Regions from separate parts of the Homo sapiens genome. Here region 2 is linked to region 1. A link means that fine-mapping ties the variant in region 1 to the expression of a gene that starts in the linked region. Tissue or cell type: lung. Region 1 holds a variant in brackets; the other region holds the start of a gene. All regions are shown on one strand. Distances are between the middles of the regions.

Evidence for each region.
Region 2: DNAJB12 starts here. The variant in region 1 is fine-mapped to the expression of DNAJB12 in lung (TOPMed, PIP 0.95). The same link has a PIP of 0.9 or more in monocytes.

Annotation. Positions count from the first base shown.
Region 1 is chr10:72,328,356-72,339,394 of GRCh38, forward strand. DNAJB12 (DnaJ heat shock protein family (Hsp40) member B12) reads right to left here. Exons shown (of 9, transcript NM_017626.7): 6 at 9,847-9,956; 7 at 8,169-8,341; 8 at 7,425-7,576; 9 at 4,508-6,262. The coding sequence ends at 7,455. Among named protein-coding and RNA genes, the nearest start is that of DNAJB12, 21 kb to the right of the region's middle. RefSeq lists enhancers at 223-422, 6,462-6,871, 7,432-7,551 and a silencer at 3,706-3,955. The variant CTA/C (reference allele first, on the strand shown) is at 5,759.
Region 2 is chr10:72,349,887-72,360,925 of GRCh38, forward strand. DNAJB12 (DnaJ heat shock protein family (Hsp40) member B12) reads right to left here and starts at 5,033. Exons shown (of 9, transcript NM_017626.7): 1 at 4,879-5,033. The coding sequence starts at 5,011. RefSeq lists enhancers at 4,490-4,619, 5,010-5,259.

The DNA of each region.
Region 1 (11,039 bases):
CGGACAGGAGTCCGCACTCCTCTCAATGACCAATGTTTGTGATTCTCATTTTGGCCCCTGCTACATTTGTCCTTACGCAGGGAGAGGAGACCTGGGGCCTTTTCAGCAGGATCAGCAGGACTCTGCTTCCCCCCGGAGGCAGGAAAAGGAAAAAGCCCCCGCCCAGTGCCCGTCCCATGAGCGACTGCTGCCTCCAGCCACCGTCCAGCTGGATGCACACCGTGGCTGATGGCCCTGGGTCTAAGCCCTCTAAGATCTGGGAGAAGTGTCCCCCAGCCAGGGTGTGGGTTTATGGCTGCAAAGCAGCTCCCTAGGGTGACCCTGGGCAGAGGAGTAGGCGAGGCTGGGAATGCTGCAGGTGGGGACAGTGCCTCAGTGCTGATGGGCCCTTCCTTCACTCAGCCTCCCATGGAGACCCCAGGTTGTGGTGCCCAGGCCCTGGGGCTGCAGCCCTGAACCTCTTCTCCAGGGAAGCCTTTGCCTAAGAACTACACAAATACCTCCAGAACAGGATGTGAGAGGCCCAAAAGGGCCAGGCCAGACCTCCCTGAGGAGGTGGCAGGAGGTTGGGCCCTGAGGGGTGAGAGGAACCTCAGGCAGAAGGGAACCCGGGTAGCAGGGCTCCACGGTGGAGGGAGGGGCTCCGCAGGCTGCAGTCAGGGTGGGAGGGCCCTGCACAGTATGTGGGGCCAGGAGGAGTGCAGGGGAGGTTTTGGGCTGTCAGTGTGGGGGAATGAGGCCGGGCCTGGCCAGCTCCATTCTGGCCCCACTTTCTCCATCTGAAGGAGCCCGCTGCATCCTCCTGTGCTGCCAGGCACCTGTCTCTCAGGCCTCCTCATCTGAGTCCATCAGGAAAATGAGAATAATCCAGTCGAGGTAGTGGGACTGCCAGCTGGGGTCCCTGCAGGCCCTAGCCTGATCCCTGCTCTGACTAGCACGGGCTCCAGTGGGGAGCTGCACCCTGCCTCCTCAAGGAAAAATCCAGCCAGGGAGCAGCCCTGCCCTCCCTCCCTAGGGACTTTGTTTAGACCAAATTGGTAGGAGGGTGGGGAAGGTGGACAAAATGTGGCAGGCCCTCCCCTCCCCAAGCAAAGCCCCAACTCCCGGGCTCTGGGCAGACTAGCCGTGGGGTCCTAGAGAGCGCCTGCCCGCCTGCCCCTCTTCCTGCCTGAGCCCTGGACCTTTATTTCATGCCCAAGTGGCTGTGAGAGTGACAGGAGGTCCAGGCCCTGTCCCTAGGGAAATATCTCCTTACAAGGGTCTGGGGCGGGAGTGACAGTCCTGTCTGCCCTGTTACCCCCTCCACCACATGGCCTTCTCTCAGCTTATAGAGTTAGTTGCAGCCTCCCTAAGGGCAGGCAGGCCACCAAGAAAGGTTCAGAAATGCTTGCTGAGTGAATTGCTGAGTGGACAGGGTGCAGCCAGGAGTGGAGAAGCTCAGTGTCTCTCATTCATGCCTGGGAAAGTTCTCTGCCCAAGGCCACTGGGTGGGCCTGGCATGATGACAGGTACAGACTGGGGGCCTGGCCTGGGCATTGCTCCCAAATGCGCTCACTTCTGCACTCTCCGGCCTCCGGGCCTCTGCTCATGCTGGAGCACCCACTCCACCCCCACCCCAGTACTGCCTGTACCCACCTCCTTCACAAACGCCAGTTCCTCTATCAAGAGTCCCTGGCTAGAGCCTTCACAACTGCTCCGCTCCCAGGGTTTCTACTCAAGGGCAGTCCTCGTCTCAGTCACCTTGGAGCTTTCACTGCTTGGAATGGGACTTGACACCCAGTCATTGCTCAGCTAATCTTTGTCCACTAAGGACAAACAAGAAACACCCAAATGGCACTCGCCATGTACCAGGCACTGTTCTAAGTGCTTTATATGTGGTAACTTGTTTACTCCTCACAACCATCCTATGAGGTAGGTGTTTGTATCACTCCCATTTTGCAGATGAAGACACTGAGGCAAAGGGCAGTCAAATGACACAGGAAAGCAAAAACTGGCTCCCTCCACCCTTCTAGGGTCTTTGACTGTGCTAGGAATTACATGGACAGATAAAGTGGTTAACAGGAGAAAAATCATATTTAATTACGTACATAGGCATGGGAGCCCCACAAAATATGCAATTTCAAGAAAGATCACATCTTGAGCTACAGAAAAGGAACTGGGGTCCAGGATAACCTTTGTACCTTAAAAAAAAAACCAAAAAAAAAAAAAAAAAAAAAACGGGCTGGGAGCTTCTGGTGGGTGATGGCAATGCAAGTTTGGGAGGGTGAGGGGAGGAACTGCATGGTGAGCAAAAGTTGTCTCGTTATGCAGATAAAAAGTCAGTCTCGGCCAGGCATGGTGGCTCATGCCTGTAATCTCAGCACTTTGGGAGGCTGAGGTGGGCGGATCACGAGGTCAGGAGATCGAGACCATCCTGGCTAACACAGTGAAACCCTGTCTCTACTAAAAATACAAAAAAATTAGCCGGGCGTGGTGGCAGGCACCTGTAGTCCCAGCTACTCGGGAGGCTGAGGCAGGAGAATGGCGTGAACCCGGGAAGCGGAGCTTGCAGTGAGCCGAGATTGCGCCACTGCACTCCAGCCTGGGTGACAGAGCGAGATTCCATCTCAAAAAAAAAAAAAAAGTCAGTCTCTCAGGTCTTAACAGTTGTCTGAGCAGCCCCAAGAATAATAGGCAGTTGTTGTCAATGAGTCAATCCTCCTTGGTAGGTAAGATTTCCAGGAGGGAGTTCAGGACAACTTAGGCAGATGAGGCAACTTCAGAGAAAGCCCTTCCTGCACTTGCTGTTGCTCAAGTGCCCCCAGTTTGAAGTAATCAGCACACCAAAATGGCAGATTTTGGGGTGGCATTTCCTGAACTCCTTCAGGGACACCCAAGGTCACCCAGTCAGTAAATGGCAAAGATCCAGCCTCAGCCCCCGTGGGGGCTGCGAGGCTGCCTCCTGGGGATGACGTTTCCTGGTGCAGCCAGATGGATGCCCGTGTCACTGCCAGGAGACACCTACTGGAATGGGCAGCTGCTCCCTAGGCCAAGCCCATCAGATGAAGTGCCACCATCCTCAGTGTGGCCTTTTCATCCTTTTCCACCCTCCTGGACTCGGGTCTTCTGCCCACTCTACCTGACACCAGTGGGTTTGATTTCCCTGAGTGCAGCAAATTTGGGCTCAGCAACTGTTTGTAGAATGACCACTCTGCTACAAGGACCCCAGAGACAGGCACAGTTTCTTCAAGACCCTGGGCGCCACTTTCCTCCCCCAAGCCTGTTTCCTGCTCTGGGAAATGAGCTGACTTGCTCATGTCACATGGCGTGATGTCTGGTAGGGACGCTGGGTTGCTTCTGAACCATGTCAACAGTCTATTTACCTGATTCTTGGCATGGCTGTGTGCCTGCTCCAGACGCCAGGTGACTTTGTCTGGGCAATGTGGGGTGGGGATGAGGTTACAGGCAGGTCGGGTGTGTGCTCCTTGTCCCTGGAGCAGTTTTTTTTTCTCTGGACCTGGGAGCAGCAAGGGACAAGGCTATAAGCTAGTGGAGCCAGGGAGCTGGGATGCAGTGGCGCGTTCTGCCACCTGACAGTGGGTGGGGGACACTTGTCAAAGCCTTTTTTGCTGCAGTCAGAGCGTGCATCCCACCTCCTCTGGCTCACGGCCAAGCCACACAGGGAGGGCAGGGGGGATGAGGTGGGTGAATGGGGGTGCCTGCAACGCCTCTGCCAACCGCAGCTAACAAGTGGCGGCTTGCACACCAGGGCAGGCAGTGGTGACCCTGGGCAGGGGCAGCCAATGAGCTCCCGGGCCACGGTGGCACCACTGGGCAGCCCGCCTGTCTTTGGCTGGTGCAGCCGCGGGAGGGGCCTGGGTCCGCCAGTCAGGGCTGCCGGGCCCTGTCTCTGGGAGGCCTGGGCAGATCTGCCGCTCCATTCACAGGAGCCCGACCCGACTTGGGCTGCCACATTTTAAACTTTTTCAACCTCCTGGAGAGGAGGGCGGGCTGCGGGGGCGGTTTGGGGGAGGATGGTGGGAAGGACGATGGAAACAAACTCGCAACACTTTTCCCAGGATCTGGCTCCTGAGTGGGATCGAGCTCCAGGCTGGGGCCGGGAATTTCGAATGCTCTGCGGGCACATGGCAGGCCTGAGGGTGTGGGGGGGAGGGATTGGGAGAGGGAAAAGCAGAGGGTGATGGTCGTGGCCCAGATGCCCAGCCAGGACTGGCGCTGGGGACCCCAGGGACCCAGACTGCTCAGGTCCTGCAGCCCCCCAGTCACCTGAGCACCCCTCTGCCTGGATGGAGTTAGTTCTGGAACAGCATGTGTGGCTTAAGTGGCTGTTAGCCAGGGCCAGGGGTCGGGGGAAATTCAGGCTCATCATCTAGAGCTCCTTGTGGCACAGGCTGGACAGTGTCAGCAGCAGCAGGGGCTTGTGCCCCCTCCCCCCCACCCCTTAGGCCTCCCTGCTCAATGCAGACCCACCACGGCCAGTCACATAATAAACATATATTAACAGATGTACAATTTGAGAATTCTAATTCAAGAAATACAGCTTCCAGAGGATCCTTTAGGATCTATGTTCTTATTGCACATGGCTCAGCCCGTCTAGGGACATCTACCAAGACCAGATGGTCGGGGCGTGGGGGCAGAGCACCGGGGCCACAGTGGGTAGGCACTCTGGCCACATCAGTTCTTATAATCTCTCTGGGCTGAAGTGGCTGCTTCATTGCAGGGTTGGACCTTGTTTAAAAACCAGATTTGACATTTCCTTACCGAACTTCCTTTCCCAGCAAGAATCCTATTTGTTGGGGGACTTTTAAAAAAAGAGCCGAGAGAAACTCTGGGAGGGTGGTTATCACCTCCTGGCTGGCAGCTTGGGGAAGTAAGGCTTTGGAAGACGGCGGGCGCAATGACACACCCACCGCCACAGGAAAACATGGTCATTCCAGAAGGCCCAGGAGAAACTGTGGGAATAAATAAAACCTCCCTCCTCCCACTGGCGGCAAGTGCTGTTTTAAGCAAAATCCTCATTTCAATGTGAGGGTAAGAAAACTATTCTGGTTCAGGTGTATCCTTTGTCCAAGGTACGAGAGGAGGCCTGGCGGTCACATCAACAGCGAGTGAAGACAGAGGCAGCCACGGGCACTGCCTTTTCTTCAGGAGTCGAGGAGGCTGCCCTGGGGTCCCGGCACCACTGACTGACTCGGAGGAAGAACTTTCTGAAGTCCTTGGTGCATGACTTAGGAAAAACCAGTGGCAATGATGGAGCTGTGCCCTGTGGCACCTATAAGGCAAAGCCCACTGAGGGACTTAGGGGTGGGGAAATGGTTAGGTAGATCCTGGCCCCCTCTGCAGGCCTTCCCTTCTGTGGGCAGGGGGCTGGAGGGCTCCTGGGCACCAGGACAAAGAGCCCACCAGCGCTGCTGAGAGGGGAGAGGTGGTCTCACCCAAGCAGGTCCTTGTGGGGCCTCTACTGTGACTCAATACTGACCTGGCACCTGCCTCCATGGCCTGCTCCTCTCCAGGTTAACCATAATCCTGAGGCCTTCGCGGGTTCACACTATCATGATTACTGCTGCCATCAAAACCAGGCTGGGGTTTCGGGGGGCTGTGAAAAGCTCTGATGCGACTCTCCTTATGCTGTCAGCTACAGCTAATGTCTAGCAAAAACATCACCAGGGTACCTTCCCCAAACAGGCCTCATTTTCTAAAACATGGAAGAAATCAGCTCAACAACTTAACCAAATCCCTGCAGAGTTTAAAAAGTAGA[CTA/C]TATATATATATATCTTCATATATGCCTATTTACATATAAATAGATATATATACATATACACGCATCTATAAATTACATTCTATGGAGAGTTCTCTTTCTTCCTCCTATCTTTGGCCAGGGCCTCTGGCTTCTCCTGAGAGGTGGCTGGTGGTGGCTCCTGTGAGGGAGGAAAGGCAGCTGGGTGCCCCCTCCCCCAGCCCTTCCCACTGATATCTGCTGCGAGTTTTACATTCTACTTTCGTTGCCATGGTTTCTGTATCCTAGGAGAGAGGCGATGCGGAGCCTCCGCCAGCCCTGCGAGGGAGGGAAGCAGCCCCATGGCAGGTTTTCTGTCTGTCCTAAGAGCTTTCTGCATTTACTGGGTGAGAGAGAGGGCAGCTGTGCAGCGTTCGGCCTCCAATTCCATTTTAATTTTGTTTCTTTGTTTGTCTTTCCTCAAATATACAGTCCATCACCTTGGCTCAGTGCATGTCACCAAAAATTCTCCAGGGATTTCATAGTCTGGGGAGGAGAGTGGCAACAGTTAGCTCGGCATTCAGGCGGCACCGGCTCCTCTAGCTTATGCCACACAAGTAGCCCCCCTTGCCACTGCACCGCTGCACCGTGCTGCCCGCTCGACCCCCACCAACCCCACTTGCGGCCTGCCCTCCTGCGGCAGCACAGAGGCAGGCACAAATGGCCTCCAGGCAGAGTCAGCCATGGATCCAGGCCGGGAGGACACAGGCAAAGGAGGGGGTGGGCAGGGCACCCACACAGAGAAGAACCTTCACTGCTTCTGCCCACACTTCTCTGGGCTTGGCTGAAGTGGCCACCTCTGGCAAACGCTGGGAACAGAGCCCAGCGCCCCCATTCGCCGGGCTGCAGAAGGAGGGAGCCTGCTACCAGCAACTCTCATTTCCCCTCCACCCCTCCTGTGCTGAGCGGCTGCGTCTGACCCTGAACTCATGACCTTCTGTTCCCTTCCTCAGACCGCAGGCGAGATGCCTGGGCAAGGCCGGATGCCTGTGGCTTCCAGGCTGCCAGGTGTGACGGCATTCGAGAGAGTGCCTCAGATCCCACCAGAGGGGGGTGGTCAGGGCCCGCGGCCCCTGCCGCCACCAAGACTGCCAGCTCCCACCCACCTCGTGGCTGCCTGTTCATCTTGCTCCATTTCCTCCTAGCTGGAGGGATGGAGAAAGGGGAGGGCTCTTGGCCCACCTATTCCCACATGGTTCTTCCTGGTATCAGGCAGGCAGTGTGCATATGGGGCTCTCTTGGGCCCCACCATATGTGATGGCCTAAATACCAGGGCACGGACAATAGTCTGCTGTGCTGGAGAAAGGGCCGTGCTGACTGATGGCTGGAGTGGACCAAGAAGCCCCGGGTGGCCCTCAGCAACAGTTTCAAGTTCCCACTCTGCCTGGTTCTGGGGTCCCCCACACCCCTGGAGCCAGGGAGCAGAGCGGAGGAGTGGGGAGGACAGCATCGCTAGAGGGCGGAAACCGACCTTGGTTTCCCAGCAGGCCCCACAGCTGCTCGGTCTCTGGAGGCTGGAGGTCAGGCTGGGGACAGGAGTCTTTGCCACAATCACCAGGCTTCCTCCCTTTCTCCCCCTCCCTCCTCTGCTCATGACCAGGGCCAAAGCTGCCAGGAGTTGCAGGGTGGAGGCAGCCCTGGCTCATACTTGGACCTCGGTGGTGTGGCTGGCCCAGGACTATCCATGCAGGGAGGCCTGCACCTCTGACAGTCGGCTGCAGCTGGGGGTGCCCATCTTCTGTGCTCTGTGGTACATATCTGTGTCGCCAAAGTAGCGTGCCCGGTACAGCAAGCCTTCCTCTGCAAAGCAATGGGACAGGGTTAGTGCACACCCAGTACCTCCCGAAGCCTGCAAGGAAGCCTGCGAGGGCTGTGGAGGGCGGAGGAAAGCTGGTACATGCCCGGGGCTTGGGCAGGGCTGGCCTCCCATTAGGAAGACCATGGAGGAGCAGAGACTACAGTCCTTATGTGGGCGAGGGTGACAGAGGCGCCTTTCTCTAGAATGCAGTGAGGCCAGCCAAGGTGAGACCCTGTCATCCTGGTCAGGCCTCCCCAGGGTCCCACAGACAGATCCAGGAGCACAGTCAGGGGGTGGCCAGGGATCCATCCGCTCCAGTCCATCTCTACACACTCACCTCTGGCAGCCAACATGCTGGGCTGATGGCAGTGATTTACGGGAACCTGAGGAAACTACCAGGTGGCCCCTGGCTCCCAGCCCCGGAGAAACACAGGAGTGGAGACCAGCTCTTGTCTGGGAGGTGGCTGGTGCAGGGCAGTGCCAGGGGCTGGGCCCTCAGAGCACAGGGTGAGCAGGGCTCTCTCCTTCCCCTGCTTTCCAGCTTCATCCCAAGCCACCTCCCAAATACAGCCCCCGCCTTCCCCCCACACTCACTCTGCTGCTTCTCCTTCCAGCAGTTGTTCCGGAGGTTGGCGATATAATCATCTTCCACATTCCGCTCGACTGTTTTGAGGCTGGAGCCTGTGTACTCTTCGGAGAAAGTGTCTCCCACATAGTAGACGACACCCAGGTGGTCAGTGACTCGCCTGTGGATGTGGCCCACGGACCTGGCCAGAAATACCAGGTTCAAAGTGGGTGCGGGTCCCCATGCCCAGGGCACTCTAGGGGTATGGGCCCCAAGACAGGAGGTGCCGCACAGACCAGAGGAGTAGTTGGTTCCCTCTCAAACCAGAGCAGGGACCCGCACACTCCCTGAAAGGAGAGTCTGAGGAAAAGGCAGCGTCCTCCCACACACGTGGCCCAGACCGCAGGACGCCCTGCCTTTAGATCCCTGCTTACCACACTGCTGACCTGGGGCCTTTGGGGAGAGGCCTGGTCTAGGGAACTGGAGACCTGAGAGGGAATCTGGGCTCTGCCTCTGTGCCTCCATCTCCCCATTCATCCCCTAAGCCAATTGTTGCTGAGTGCTTGCCTGCCTATCTAGGAGTTCCCAGTGTAGGGTTAAGAGGCTTAGGAACAAAATGACAGGAAGGGCTCCAGGGAGCCTTATCCTCCCAGCTCCAATCACAGGCTCTGTCAGCTGTGGGAAGAGCCTTGACACCCAGACAGGACCAGTGCTCTGGGGACAACAGTCCCTGCCCTAGTCCTCTGCTCCTCACATCTCTCCAGTTGCAGGGAAAAGGGCTGGCATCTGGCCACAGGGAGCCTGAGCCGGCGGCCAGGGTCCAGTGGACCGACTCTGCCCCCTGCTGGCTGAGAAGGGTCCTGCCAGCTCCCAGCCAGAGGTGGCCACCTTTTGGGAGAGGGGGACCCACCCCACTGAAGATGTGCACCCACTGTGTAGCTGACCCTGGGCCAGGTGCTGGACATCAGTGAGGGGAGCTGACCCCCTAACGGCTCATGAAATGTCCTCAAGTTCACTCCTGGCAGTCGAGACTAAGCATTCATTAAACTAATATTGTTGAGCATTTCTAGTGGGCCAGACATTTTATATGCATTACTCATTAATTTCCACAGCAGGTGGATGTTATAATTCCCATTTTATAGATGAGGAAACCAAGGTTATATAACTTGTTTAGGGTCACACAGCTTCTTAGTGGAGAAGCTGGGATTCTAAGCCATGCTTGCTCTGTCTGACTCTAGTGCCCTGTTCTTTCCACAGCCTCAGGAAGCCCAACCAGAGCCGAGGAGCAGAGGTTCTTCGTCAGGGTTGGCAGGGGAGATGGGCAGGGAAGAGTCACAAAGCCGCCGAAATTATATGCAAAACTCTGTGTGTATATGTGTGCGTGTATGTGTGCATGTGTATTATGTGTGTGCATGTATTGTGTGTGTGTGTACATGTGTATCGTGTGTGTGTATGTGTGTGTGCACATGTGTGCATAGTTTTAGGGAAAAGTTCTGTAGCTCTCGCTGCAATTTCTTAGGGGACCATAATCCTAAAAAGCTTAAGAGTCCTAGTTGAATAGAGAAAGTATATTTTCTTGATTCGAAGCCAGGTTTCTGCATTATGATCGCACACTGGCTGGATCAGGATGGGAAAGAAGGCCCCTGATGGGGCTGAGAATTTAAAGCCCCTTGTCTGCCCATGGCCCGGCCTCACCCATGTACTCACGGTCTTGGACTCAGACTGTAGGGTGGACTGGAGACCATGAGCTGGCTGAGAGCTGACACGAGAATCAGGATGAGGATAGGCATCAGCTGCACAAACACCCCTAGCCCGCCCTGGAGGGAAGAGCCAATGTCACTCTGCTGGACCTGGGTGGGGTGTGGTGTCAGCCATAATCACCACTAGCTCCCCTAGAATAGTGGAGCCTGGGGAGACATGACACCACTCTGCCGTTCCCTCCACGAGGCTCCAAAACACAGACGCTCCTTCACCTGCCAGCTTTCCCAGATAAAAACAAAGCAGCAACTGGTGTGAAATACAGGAGGAAGTGAGGTGTCTGCATTTACTTTTGACAGAATGCCAAAAAAAAAAAAAAATCAGCAAAAGTTGCTTCCTCCAGGAGAATGGAAGGCAGGGCTGGAAGGAGACATGCAGTATATACAAGTTTTTGAGATGTGAACCACACAAATATATTACCAATTTAAACATTATGGCCAGTGTGGCGGCTCATGCCTGTAATCCCAACACTTTGGGAGACCAACATGAGAGGAACACGTGAGGCCAGGAGTTCAAGACCAGTCTGGCCAACATACACCCCCATCTCTACAAAAAATAATAATTAAAACAAAATAAAAATTAGAAATAGCACTGGTTCTAGGGTGCAGAAAAAGCAAACAAACAAAAAAAGAAGAATTAGAAATAAAAATTAACAAATATATTCACTGTGTGATAATCTGTGATGTTAAACTCTTCTGTTGTTAGATACAAAATAAAAAAATTTTGATCAGGGGCAATGGCTCATGCCTGTAATCCCAGCACTGTGGGAGGCTGAGGCAGGAGGACCACTTGAGCCCAAGAGTTTGAGACCAGCCTGTGCTCAAACAGCAAAGTAAGACCCTATCTCTACAAAAAATACAAAAAATTAGCTGGGTGTGGTGGTGTGGGCCTGTGGTCCCAGCTACTGGGGAGCCTGAGGTGGGAGCTTTGCCTGGGAGGGGAGGCTCCTGCACTCTAGCCAGGGTGACAGAACGAGACCCTGTCTCAAAAAAAAAAAAAAAAGGCCGGCATGGTGGCTCACGCCTGTAATCCCAGCACTTTGGGAGGAAGGGGCAGGCAGATCACGAGGTCAGGAGTTCGAGACCAGCCTGGCCAACATGGTGAAACCCCGTCTCTACTAAAAATACAAAAATTAGCTGGGT
Region 2 (11,039 bases), 22 kb after region 1:
GCCTGGGGGATGTGACAGCTTCATGCTTACATCCCTCATGGCACAGAGGCTGACAGGCAATGTCACAAAAAGAGACAGAACAGCTTAATGTTACCTTCTCAGTAAAGCTGGCAGACTTAGAAAAGGAAGGGAATTCGATAGAAGAGAACAGAGCTGCGGTGGAGAGGCACCTGAGGTAGAGCTGAGAGGATTTCTATGGCCAAAGCCACTGAACCCAGACTAGAGTTAGATTTGGCCGGGCAGTGGCTCACACCTGTCATCTCAGCACTTTAGGAGGCCAAGGCAGGAGAATGGATTGAGCTCAGGAGTTCGAGACCAGCCTTGGCAACACAGGAAGACCCTGTCTCTACGAAAATAAAAAAATTAGCCAGGTGTGGTGGCACATGCCTGTGGTCCCGGCTGTTTGGTAGGCTAAGGTGGGAGGATCACTTGGGCCTGGGTGGTTGAGGCTGCAGTGAGCTGTGATTGTGCCACTGCACTCCAGCCTGGGCAACAGAGTGAGACCCTGTCTCAAAAAAAAAAAAAAAAAAAAAAAAAAAAAGACTGCCCGATGGGTTCAAACCTAGCTCTGCCATTTGCTAGAAGGGTCATCTTGGACAAGGTAACTTAGCTCATCTGTGCAAAACTCTATCTCCATCATACAGGCTAAAAGAGGAAATGAGTGAATGCCAGCAAAAAACTCAGCCCAATGCCCAGCAAATATACAGTGTTGTCTCTGACCGTGACTTTGTTAGTAAGTGAGTAGCTGAGTTTCTGGGCTCTGTGTACCTACGGTGCTCACAGTGAGTCAGAAAAGGGCCTGGGATTGGAGATGGACAGCTCTGGGTCTTTGCTGGCTAGCCATGTGGCCTTGCCAGGTTAGCTGGTTCCTGAGTGGAGAGACGATCTCTGCTCTCATAGGAGTGCTCTGAGGGGTAAATAAGATTCTGTGAAATACAGTGAATGGAAGGGGGCTAAGTGCACAGTGGGGCTCATGAAGGTTGACTGACTTGAAGGGTACAACCCCACCCCGGACCTCGCCAGCACCAGAACATCTCTCACTCCTGGACTCTGAATGCAGAATCCCTCAGCAATCCGTCTCCTTTTCCTGTGGGCTGGCCTTCCCAGCTTGGCCTTCATGACTTAGCCCAGAGTCAACCATTTCACAGAACATTGGATAGCCTGAGCTGCAAGGAACCTCAGGATCATCCCAGCCAATCCTCTCTTTGTATGCTGGGGAAACTGAGGCCTACAAATGCTCTCGTGAGCTCCCTGGGAAATCTGGCACCTTCCACATTTGTTACAAAGCCTGAGTCAAAGCCAATGGCTTACCAGGCTGCCAGCTACTGGACAGAAACTCCCAGAAAGGGACTGACTGGCTCCACCATCTCTAGTCTGTGACCTCCCAGCTTAGGGCCCAGCTACTGCTTTGCAGTTTAACTCAGTGCCTCCTTGTCCCACCTCCTGCAGCAGGAGTTTCAAGCCCCCTCACATCCCTTTTTGCTGCAAAGGCCAACAGTGTGAGGTCCCTCATCCTTTCAAGGTTGCTCTGAGCCTCCCCTCTCTCGTGACTCTCCCCTCTCTGCCCTTCCACCTCTCCAAGACCATCCTCTGCCCATGCTCTCGATCCTTCCCTTTTCAACTCTTAACTTGTCCTTTTCCCATGCAGTGCCTGCGGCATCACACAGGGCTGCTCACCACCTGCTGCCATTACCTCTCCATGGCTACCTGGCCGCTGCCCTCTCCGGGGACTGCCTTTTCCTGTTGCTCCATCTCAATCTGTTGCTTCCTCTGCCTTTGCCTGTGGGCTCAGGGCAGGTGTTGCCTGCCATTGTGCCTGCAGCAACTTTCTCTCCATGGTCTATACTTTCCCACAGTGACCTCAGCCATGCACAACTCCAGTGAGCTCCAGGGAACAGACGATACCACACTTTCACCTGTAACCTGGAGCGCTCTCCTGAGTTCCAGGCTGACAGCTCCTTTGGACTATCCCACTGGCACCTCCCACTCTGCTCATCTCTTCCCATCTCAGTTCTTCAGCCTGGTTTCTTCCTGGTCACAGGGGCTTCAATTCTGATTCCCCAGCATCCCATCTGATTCTCCTCTGCACCTCTCTCTCACACAGGCCTGGTGCCTCTTTTCCAGGGACCTTAGCCTTATCCATGACTGCCTTGTCCCAGGCCCTCAGAATATCCAACCAGCTCAAGGCAATTCTCTCCTATTGGCTTCCTGCCCTGAAGCTCTCTTCCCTCTCATTAACCTTTCATGCTGTTCTCTTTTAACAACAGTGCCCGTACTTTATTCCTGCTATCAAAAACCTCAATGGTTTCCTCACTAACTACAGAATAAGGTGAAAATATCTTGGCCTGGTAGAAAAGGATTTCTATGATCTGGCCCCATTTTATTTCCCAAACTTAATCCTCTCTGTATACGAATTACCACCTCCACTGCCTCTAAATCTTGCTACACTTTGATCTCTTCCCCCAAACGTTACAACTTTCAGCTCCTTTGTCTTCTTCCAGGATGCCTTTCCTCAAGTCTCACACCGTCCTCCAAAGCACAATTCAAATGTTAACTCCTGTCATCCCCAAAGCATTCCCTCACTGTGAGATAACATTATTTTTATGCACTTGCTACAGCACTCACTAAACTGCTGATAATTTAATGTTCAGGAGATTGTCCTCCGCACCTCCTCCCCACCATCAGACTGTGAACCCATGGATGATGGGGCCTGATTTTTTCATGCCTGTCCTTAAGTCCTCAGCGTCTAACCTTGGGTTTATTTTTTGTTTAATTACAGTTCTGTCTTGTAATATTTGTTTCTGTAAGTTTTGTCTCTTTCACTAGATTATAAGCTCTTTTGAGGTGAGGGATCACATTTTACCAATCTTGCTAGCACCAAGCAGAGGACTTTGCAAACAAAACATAAATGATCTTCAACAAAAGTCTGCTGCATTGAATGAGCATCTGGGATGAGCCTAAACCCAAAGCAATAGACCGCCACCTAATATATCTGTATTACTCCCCCTGGGGAGGCAGGTAGCCAGCCCAGTGGGTAGCCCTGCCCTCTATTTTTGAAGTAAGATCTTTCCCTGTCCCAGACCTAAACTAATCCCAGGTCTTTGTCAGCTCAGTGGAGGGCTGCAGATGGTAAAGTTTACACGGATGCATAAGGCGTATAGTCTCATAGTCTTTCCAGAAAAGCACAAATATGACAAATATGCATGCAGGTGGTTCTTCTGTCTCAGCAAATTCCAGAGCCTGAGCCCCAGAGAGGACACTCCTTCAAGCTCCTGAACTGGTGCAGGGGCCTGCTGACAGAAAGATCCCCAGAGGCCCTGTGGCCCATCCTTTCTTGGCTGCCTGCTCCTGAGCCCGCAGCAGCATCAGTGTCAGGCAGAATTCTGACAGCTGGAGGATACCACCCCACCACAGAATATGAATTAATTCACAGGGAGGCTCCTCGAGCAGGTTACCTCAGGTGTCCTGGCAAATACAGCCCGAAACCCTCTCCAAGGGGAGGCAAACAGGCCAAAGATCAACCTGCAAGAGTCCGGAGGGAGGAAAGTTCAGCAGTCCAGGCTACCTCTTCCACCAGCGTTCCGCTTTCTCAATCTCATCAGGCGGGCAGGGCCGGTTAGGAGGCTGACTGCTGTTCCTCAATTTCATTTCTTTTCCTTCATAAACATTTACAGAGTCACAGAACATTTTACTTTCTAGCTGTGTCATCCTGGGCATCCCTTACCTCAGAGATTTTCCTCACCCATAGAATAAAGATAATGATCTTTGCTCTGCATCCCTGACTGGCAGGCTCAAGTGAGAAGGCACAGGTGAAGGAGCTTCCTAAACTGCAAAGCCCTATGGGTATTATTGCCAATCACATTATCTGCGCCAACCCTCTAATCTTCCCGAGGAGGAAACCCAAGCTCAGGAAGGTCACGTGGTAGCCGTCAGGATGAGACTGGGCCCTTCGGAGTGCCTGTTATTCCCAGACGGTTTACTGAGTGGTGATCACAAGCACCACCCGGTGTCTCTCTCCCCTCTAGCGTGGATTAAGAAAAACTCCTTGGAAAACTTAGGTTAAAGAAAAAAGAAAGGGTTCCCGGGTGAAGCGAGGTGATGAGTTGTAAAGCCAGCTTCACTCTTCCCTCCCTGGCTCAGGAGGCTCCTGTCCAGGGCAACTCAGCAGCCTCGGCGTCCACATGGCTGACCGCCGCTGGACTCTTGCGGGCGATGGAGGACTGGCGGTGGCTGAGGTCAGCACCTCCCACCAGGCCACCCGCTCCGAATCTCATCATCGGGAGGAGTGAGGGGCCCGGCTTCAGGACAGTCCGAGGCGGCGGACTGGGGTGGGTGCAAAGGCCGGCTTGCATTTTGGGAGAGTGGTCCCTGACCCTCAGCCCGAGAGGTGAGAGGGAGTGAAGATACGGAAGCGCCTTTCCCTGGCGCCCGAAGAACAGAAATGTCTCCCTGTCTAGCGCCCATTCTCTCCCTTAAAGGAGTTATGTTTATTTTCCTGAACTGTAATATTTCCCAGGCCGGCGACTGGCCTGGGCTACCGAACGGCCCCTTGGGAAAAGTAGTTCGAGTTCACTTCCAGGTAAGTTCCCTTCGTCCCGGCTGCCAGCGCGTTTCATTCTCGGAGACCTCAAACCCCAGCGGGCTCCGCCAGCACCCCGAAAGCTGAAGTCCCGGCCGCCCGAGTCTCCAGACGGCTCGCATCCCGCAGAGGAACAAGAGGGAAAAACTACGCCTCCCAGCAGCCACCGCGCGCCTCAGTGCGCAGGCGTAGCCGCGCCTCGCCACCCCTCCCCCTCCCCCAACTGCTCCCGTCGGTCCGTTCCCGTGTTCCCCCCATCAGTTCTAATGTCCCCAGTCTCTCCGGCACCTCACACTCACCGCGAACTCGCGGCGTCGGATACAGCCGCTGTGCCTTCTCCAGGAAGCGGAGCGCCCGGTCGGGCTGGTTGCTCTGGATGGCCTTGAGGGCGATGCTGATACAGCGCTCAGCTTCATCCTTGTTGGATTCCATGGCGGAACCAGAACGCGGAACCAGGGAGGGGGAGGCCGGGCGAGCGAAGGGCTGCGCCACCCGCCGGCGCGTCGCGGGCAGCCGGGCGCGGAGTGATGACATCCACCCTCCGCCCCTCCTTTCCCGAGTTTTGAGCGAGGGTGGAAGTGCTACCGTATGTCTTCTAAGAAAGGGACGGCTGGTGTAGGTGTCAATAATGGTGCACGCCCAGATTCCATGTTCCGGAGGTCTTAGAGTTGAGTATGCGCCAACCCTCTAATCTTCCGGAGGAGGAAACCCAAGCTCAGGAAGGTCACGTGGTAGCCGTCGGGATGAGACTGGGGCCTTCGGAGTGCCTGTTATTCCCAGACGGTTTACTAAGTGGTGATCTATATACGTAATGTAACTACATACGTTTCAGACAAAGGTTATTTATTCACTGAACAGATATTGAGTGCCCACTGTTTGTGAGGCATGGTTTTATGATGGGGATACAGGGGTGAGCAAAACAAAGCTCCTGCTCTCATGGAGCTTACATTCCAGTGTGTGTAGGCTGGGGGAGCTCCAGATAGATTCAGATAGTGATAAAAGCTCTGAAGAAAAATTATGGAAAACACAGGGATAGAGAGTGGGAGGCGCTATTTTAAATAGCGCGATAAAAGAAACCTCTCAGAAGCTGTCATTAACAGGTACCAGAATTCAGGAACGATAACAGGTAGATGTGACTGTCTGGAGGAAGGGTGGTCAGGCCGAAGGAACAGCAAGTGCAAAGGCTCTGAAAAGGGAATTCTCTTGGTGAGTTATAACAGATCAGGAAGGCGAATACATTCTAGGGAGCGTAAAGATTCTACTACAGGCTGGGCGCGGTGGCTCACGCCTGTAATCCCAGCACTTTGAGAGGCCGAGGCGGGCGGATCACTTGAGGTCAGGAGTTCGAGACCAGCCTGACCAACATGGAGAAACCCCGTCTCTACTAAAAATACAAAATTAGCCGGGCATGGTGGCACATGGCCTGTAATCCCACCTACTCGGGAGGCTGAGGCGGGAGAATCGCTTGAACCTGGGAGGTGGAGGTTGCGGTGAGCCAAGATCACACCATTGCACTCCAGCCTGGGCAACAAGAGTGAAACGCCATCTAAAAAAAAAGAAGAAAAAAAAAAGATTCTACTACAGAGTGTAATCCAGTTCTATCATTATCCCGTTCTTCGAGGGCTATCACTCCAGTGAAAGCAATCTTGTGAAGGTTGCCAGTGACCTCCACGTTGCCGAATCCCCGAGTCATCTGTCAGCCCTTACATTGCTTGGCCTTTCAGGCAGGATTTGGTAAGATGCTACTACAGTAATCCGGATGAGAGTCAGGAAGCTACTATTATAATACAGGTGAAAATTAATGGTAACTTGGATAAGGGTGATGGCGGAGGTGGTGAGTAGTAGTAAAATTCTGGATATATTTTGAAGACAGAATGACGCAATGGATGTGGGCTGTGAGAGAAAGAAGATTCAAGGATGATTCCAATGTTTTTGGCTTGATAACTGGAAGAAGAGAATTTCTATTTACTAAAACAAGGAAATGGAAAAGACTACAAAAGCAGTTTGGTGGGGGAATATTAAGGGTTTGATTCAGTTTATGATGCTTTTTAGAATCAAGCAGAGATACAGACTAGGATGTTGTACATACGTAGGGTTTAGGCAAAAAGGACCTGGAAATATAACTTTGGGGCCAGGCACAGTGGCTCACTCCTATAATCCCAACATTTTGGGAGGCCAGGGGTGGGAGGATCACTTGAGGCAAGGAGTTTGAGACCAGCCTGGGCAACAGAGTGAGATCCCATCACTACAAAAAAATAAAAAATTAGCTGGGTGTGGTAGTACACGCCTGTAGTCCCAGCTACTCAGGAGGCTGAGGTGGGAGGATCACTTGAGCATGGGAGGTCAAGGCTGCAGTGAGCTGTGATATATATATATATATATATATATATATATATATATATATATATATATATATATATATATATGCACCAAGGAAGTGAGTGTAGATGGAGAAGAGCAGAGAAGTCTGATTACTGAGCCTCACGAAATCCCAACATTTAAAGATCTGGAAGAGGAAGAAAATCCAGTAAAGGAGAATGTGAAGAAGCAGGTTGTAAGGAAATGAGTAGGTCAGGTATGGTGGCTCATGCCTGTAATCCCAGCACTTGGGGAGGCTGAGGTGGGAGGCTCGCTTTAGCCCAGGAGTTCAAGACCAGCCTGGGCAACATAATGAGACCGCCCCCCCTCACGGTCTCTACAAACAGTTTTTTTAGAAAAGGAGGGAGGGGGGGTCAAACGTCATATCCTGTGGAGAGGCCAAGCAATGTGAGGCCTGAGAAATGACCAATGGATTTGGCAGTGTAGAGGGCAGTGTTGACTTTGACAAAATTGCTTTTATCTATTTCATTTTATTTTTTTGAGACAGGGTCTCACTGTTACCCAGACTGGAGTGCAGTGGCACAGTTATGGCTCACTGCAGCCTCAACTTTCTGGGCTCAAGCAATCCTCCCACCTCCGCCTCCTGAATAGCTGGGACTACAGGAGTGCTCCACCACACCTGGCTAGTTTTTTTTTTAAGTTTTTTTTTAGAGATGGGGTCTCACTGTGTTGCCTAGGCTGGTCTCAAACTTCTAGGCTCAAGTGATCCTCTCACCTCAACCTCCCAAAGTGCTGGGATTACAGGTGTGAGCCACTGTGCCTGACCATAAAATGGCTTTTAGTGTGTGGTAGGGGTGAAAACCCAACAGGAATGGATTCAAGAGAGTAAAGGTGGCTGGGCGCAGTGGCTCAAACCTGTAATCTCAGCACTTTGGGAGGGTGAGGTGGGTGGATCACCTGAGGTCAGGAGTTCAAGACCAGCCTGGCCAACATGGTGAAACCCTATCTCTACTAAAAAAAATTACAAAAATTAGCCAGGTGTGGTGGCATGCGCCTGTACTCCCAGCTACCCAGGAGGATTATGAGCCTGGGAGGTCGAGGCTGCAGGGAGCCATGGTTGCCCCACTACACTCTAGCCTGGGCACAGAGTCAGACCCTGTCTCAATAAATAAATACACACATAAGAAAGAAGCAAGGTCATGGCCTCCTCAGCTATACATGCTCCTTGGAAAATTCTTTCACATCCAACCTTCCTTTCCATTCCCATTTTTCCCTTTCCAATGCAAACCCTTACGACTCCATGCTGGCCTGGTACAGACCCTCCTTGATAAGACAGTCCTACACTTGGAGAAATTTAAGTTCTCTACAAATTGATAGGTCCCTAATGTGTCCATGGATAAATGCTGGGATCCTTTTCAAACAGCCTCTCTGAGGTTTGTTGACCTAGCACGACAATTTCCATCTTCCTGTCTCCTGCTAAGAATCATGAAGTATCCTCTTCCATTTCCTATCATGAGGCCTGTCTTCTCCTGCTGACTACAAGATACAGTCATGTGTCACTTAATGACAGGGATATGTTCTGAGAAAAGTGTTGTTAGGTGATTTTATCACTGTGCGAACATCATAGAGTCCTTATACAAACCTAAGTTGGTATAGCCTGCTACACACCTAGGGTTTAAGGTATGACCTGTTGCTTCTAGGTTACATACCTGTACAGAACATTACCATACCGAATACAATGGGAAGTATTTGTGTATCTAAACATAGAAAAGGTAATGCATTGTGCTATGACCTTATGATGGCTATGAATGTCACTAGGCAATAGGACTTTTTCAGCTCCATTATAATCTTAAGGGACCATTGTCATATATGCTGTCTGTAGTTGGCCAAAATGTTATGATGTGGTGCATGACTCTACTTCACACTGTGAAGAAGGCAATCAAGTAGAAAAGAAAGTCTGTCATTTTCTTGTGTTAGGGAACTGGATTGTGACTGGCCAACTACTGACGGGTGAGCCCTTCTCTTTTCCTACAATTCATATAAAATGACAAAGTCCTATTTAAATTGTGGGTCAGTGCTTTGGCTTGATTGGCAGGGTCCAGATCAGTAACGATGTGGAGAAGCGGGCTGCTTGTGGTAGGGGCCCTTTATGCCTTATTTTTGCATTCTTCTCCTTGCCCCCCTCTGCTGCTCATCTTGGTCCCTAAGCTGTTTCTTTCTTTTTCTTTTTTTTTTTTTTTGAGACAAAGTCTTGCTCCATCGCCCAGGCTGGAGTGCAGTGGCGCGATCTTGGCTCACTGCAACCTCTGCCTCCCAGGTTCAAGCAATTCTCCTGTCTCAGCCTCCCGAGTAGCTGGGACTACAGCCACATGCCACCAAGCCTGGCTAATTTTTGTATTTTTAGTAGAGATGGGGTTTCACCTTGTTGGTCAGGCTGGTCTGGAACTCCTGACCTCAGGTGATCTGCCCGCCTCGGCCTCCCAAATTGCTGGGATTACAAGCATAAGCCACCGTGCCCGGCCACTGTTTCCTTTTGCTTTTTTTTTTTTTTTTTTTTTTGAGATGGATTCTCACTCTGTTGCCCAGACTGAAGTGCAGTGGCATGATCTCAGCTCACTGCAACCTCTGCCTCCCAGGTTCAAGCGATTCTCATGCCTCAGCCTCCTGAGTAGCTCAGATTATAGGCATGCATCTCCATGCCTGGATAATTTTTGTATTTTCACAAAATACAAAAAGTGGAGATTAACAAAATGCAAAAAGTAGGGGTTTTACCATGTTGGCCAGGCTGGTCTCGAACTCCTAACTTCCAGTAATATGCCCAGCTCAGCCTCCCAAAGTGCTGGGATTATAGGTGTGAGCCGCCACACAGGGCCTCCCTAAGCTGTTTGTTTTCAGAAAGGCTGTGCTGTTTCAGAAGGGATTATGAACTGACCCTGAAGGCTGGTCTAAGGAGCCCCTGCCTTTCTTACAAATCTGAGTCACACTGGATGTCTTGCTTTTGGTCCTGAGGCTAATTTGACTTTTTATTTGTCCCTCTCAGTCCAAAGGCCAGGAAAGAGAGACACCCCGCCTTGCTCAGGTCATGTTAAACATTATAGTCCCTGGTCTTGGAGCTGGTATGCTAGGGATGACTTGGGAACACTCTCTCCTTGATGATCTTTGAAATCAAGATGTCATGATTTTGATCTAAGGGAAAAAACTGGAAACATCCATTCTGACTAGCTGGGATCATTGTATCTGTGGGTGGATGGGGCTTAAAAAGAGAGACAAAGCCTGGGCGCCGTGGCTTATGCTTGTAATCTTAGCACGTTGGGAGGCAAAGGTGGGCAAATCACTTGAGATCAGGAGTTCAAGACCACCCTGGCCAACATGGTGAAACACTGTCTCTACTAAAACTACAAAAATTAGCTGGGCATGGTGGTTCAACCCTGTAATCCCAGCTACTTGAGAGACTGAGGCACGAGAATTGCTTGAACCTGGGAGGCAGAGGTTGCATTGAGCCGAGGTGGCACCACTGCTTTCAAGCCTCGGCAACAAATGGAAGAGACAGTCTCCAAAACAAAACAAAACAAAACAAAACAAAAAACCAAAACTTTTCATTGCCACCTTCACAGATATCCAGAAGTCACTGGAAAAAGGAATCTACCAATGAATCTCAGCATCTCCTCATTTTGCTCCTAGACCTAAAACCACCTTTGTATTGGGTGACCACCAGCCTCTAGATTTCTCTCCTCTGGGGATACCAAGAATTCACAATCTGCCTTTAACATGCTTGTATTTCCCATTGTACCTTCCCCATCTTTACTGAGCCAATGCTTCACCTCACTCGTATCTATATGCCTGTTGGCTTTAATTCTTTCCTATCTGTCCAAATCTAATTTATTCTTTAGGGCTTGGCTTAAACCCTATCTCCTCTGTGTGAGAGAGAATTTAATGGTCATATGTCTACATGGAAAGCCAGGCACTGTGCAGAGATTTAGGGATTCAGAGATGCACCATGAATAAGGACAGAACCTGCCATCAGGGAGCTCACAGTCTAGTAAGGGAAACAGATTGGAAAGAATGACAGGGTACTATGGTAAGGACAATGGGACTGTGTAAACTCCAGCAGCTCAGAAGACACAGTTATCAGTTATGTGTG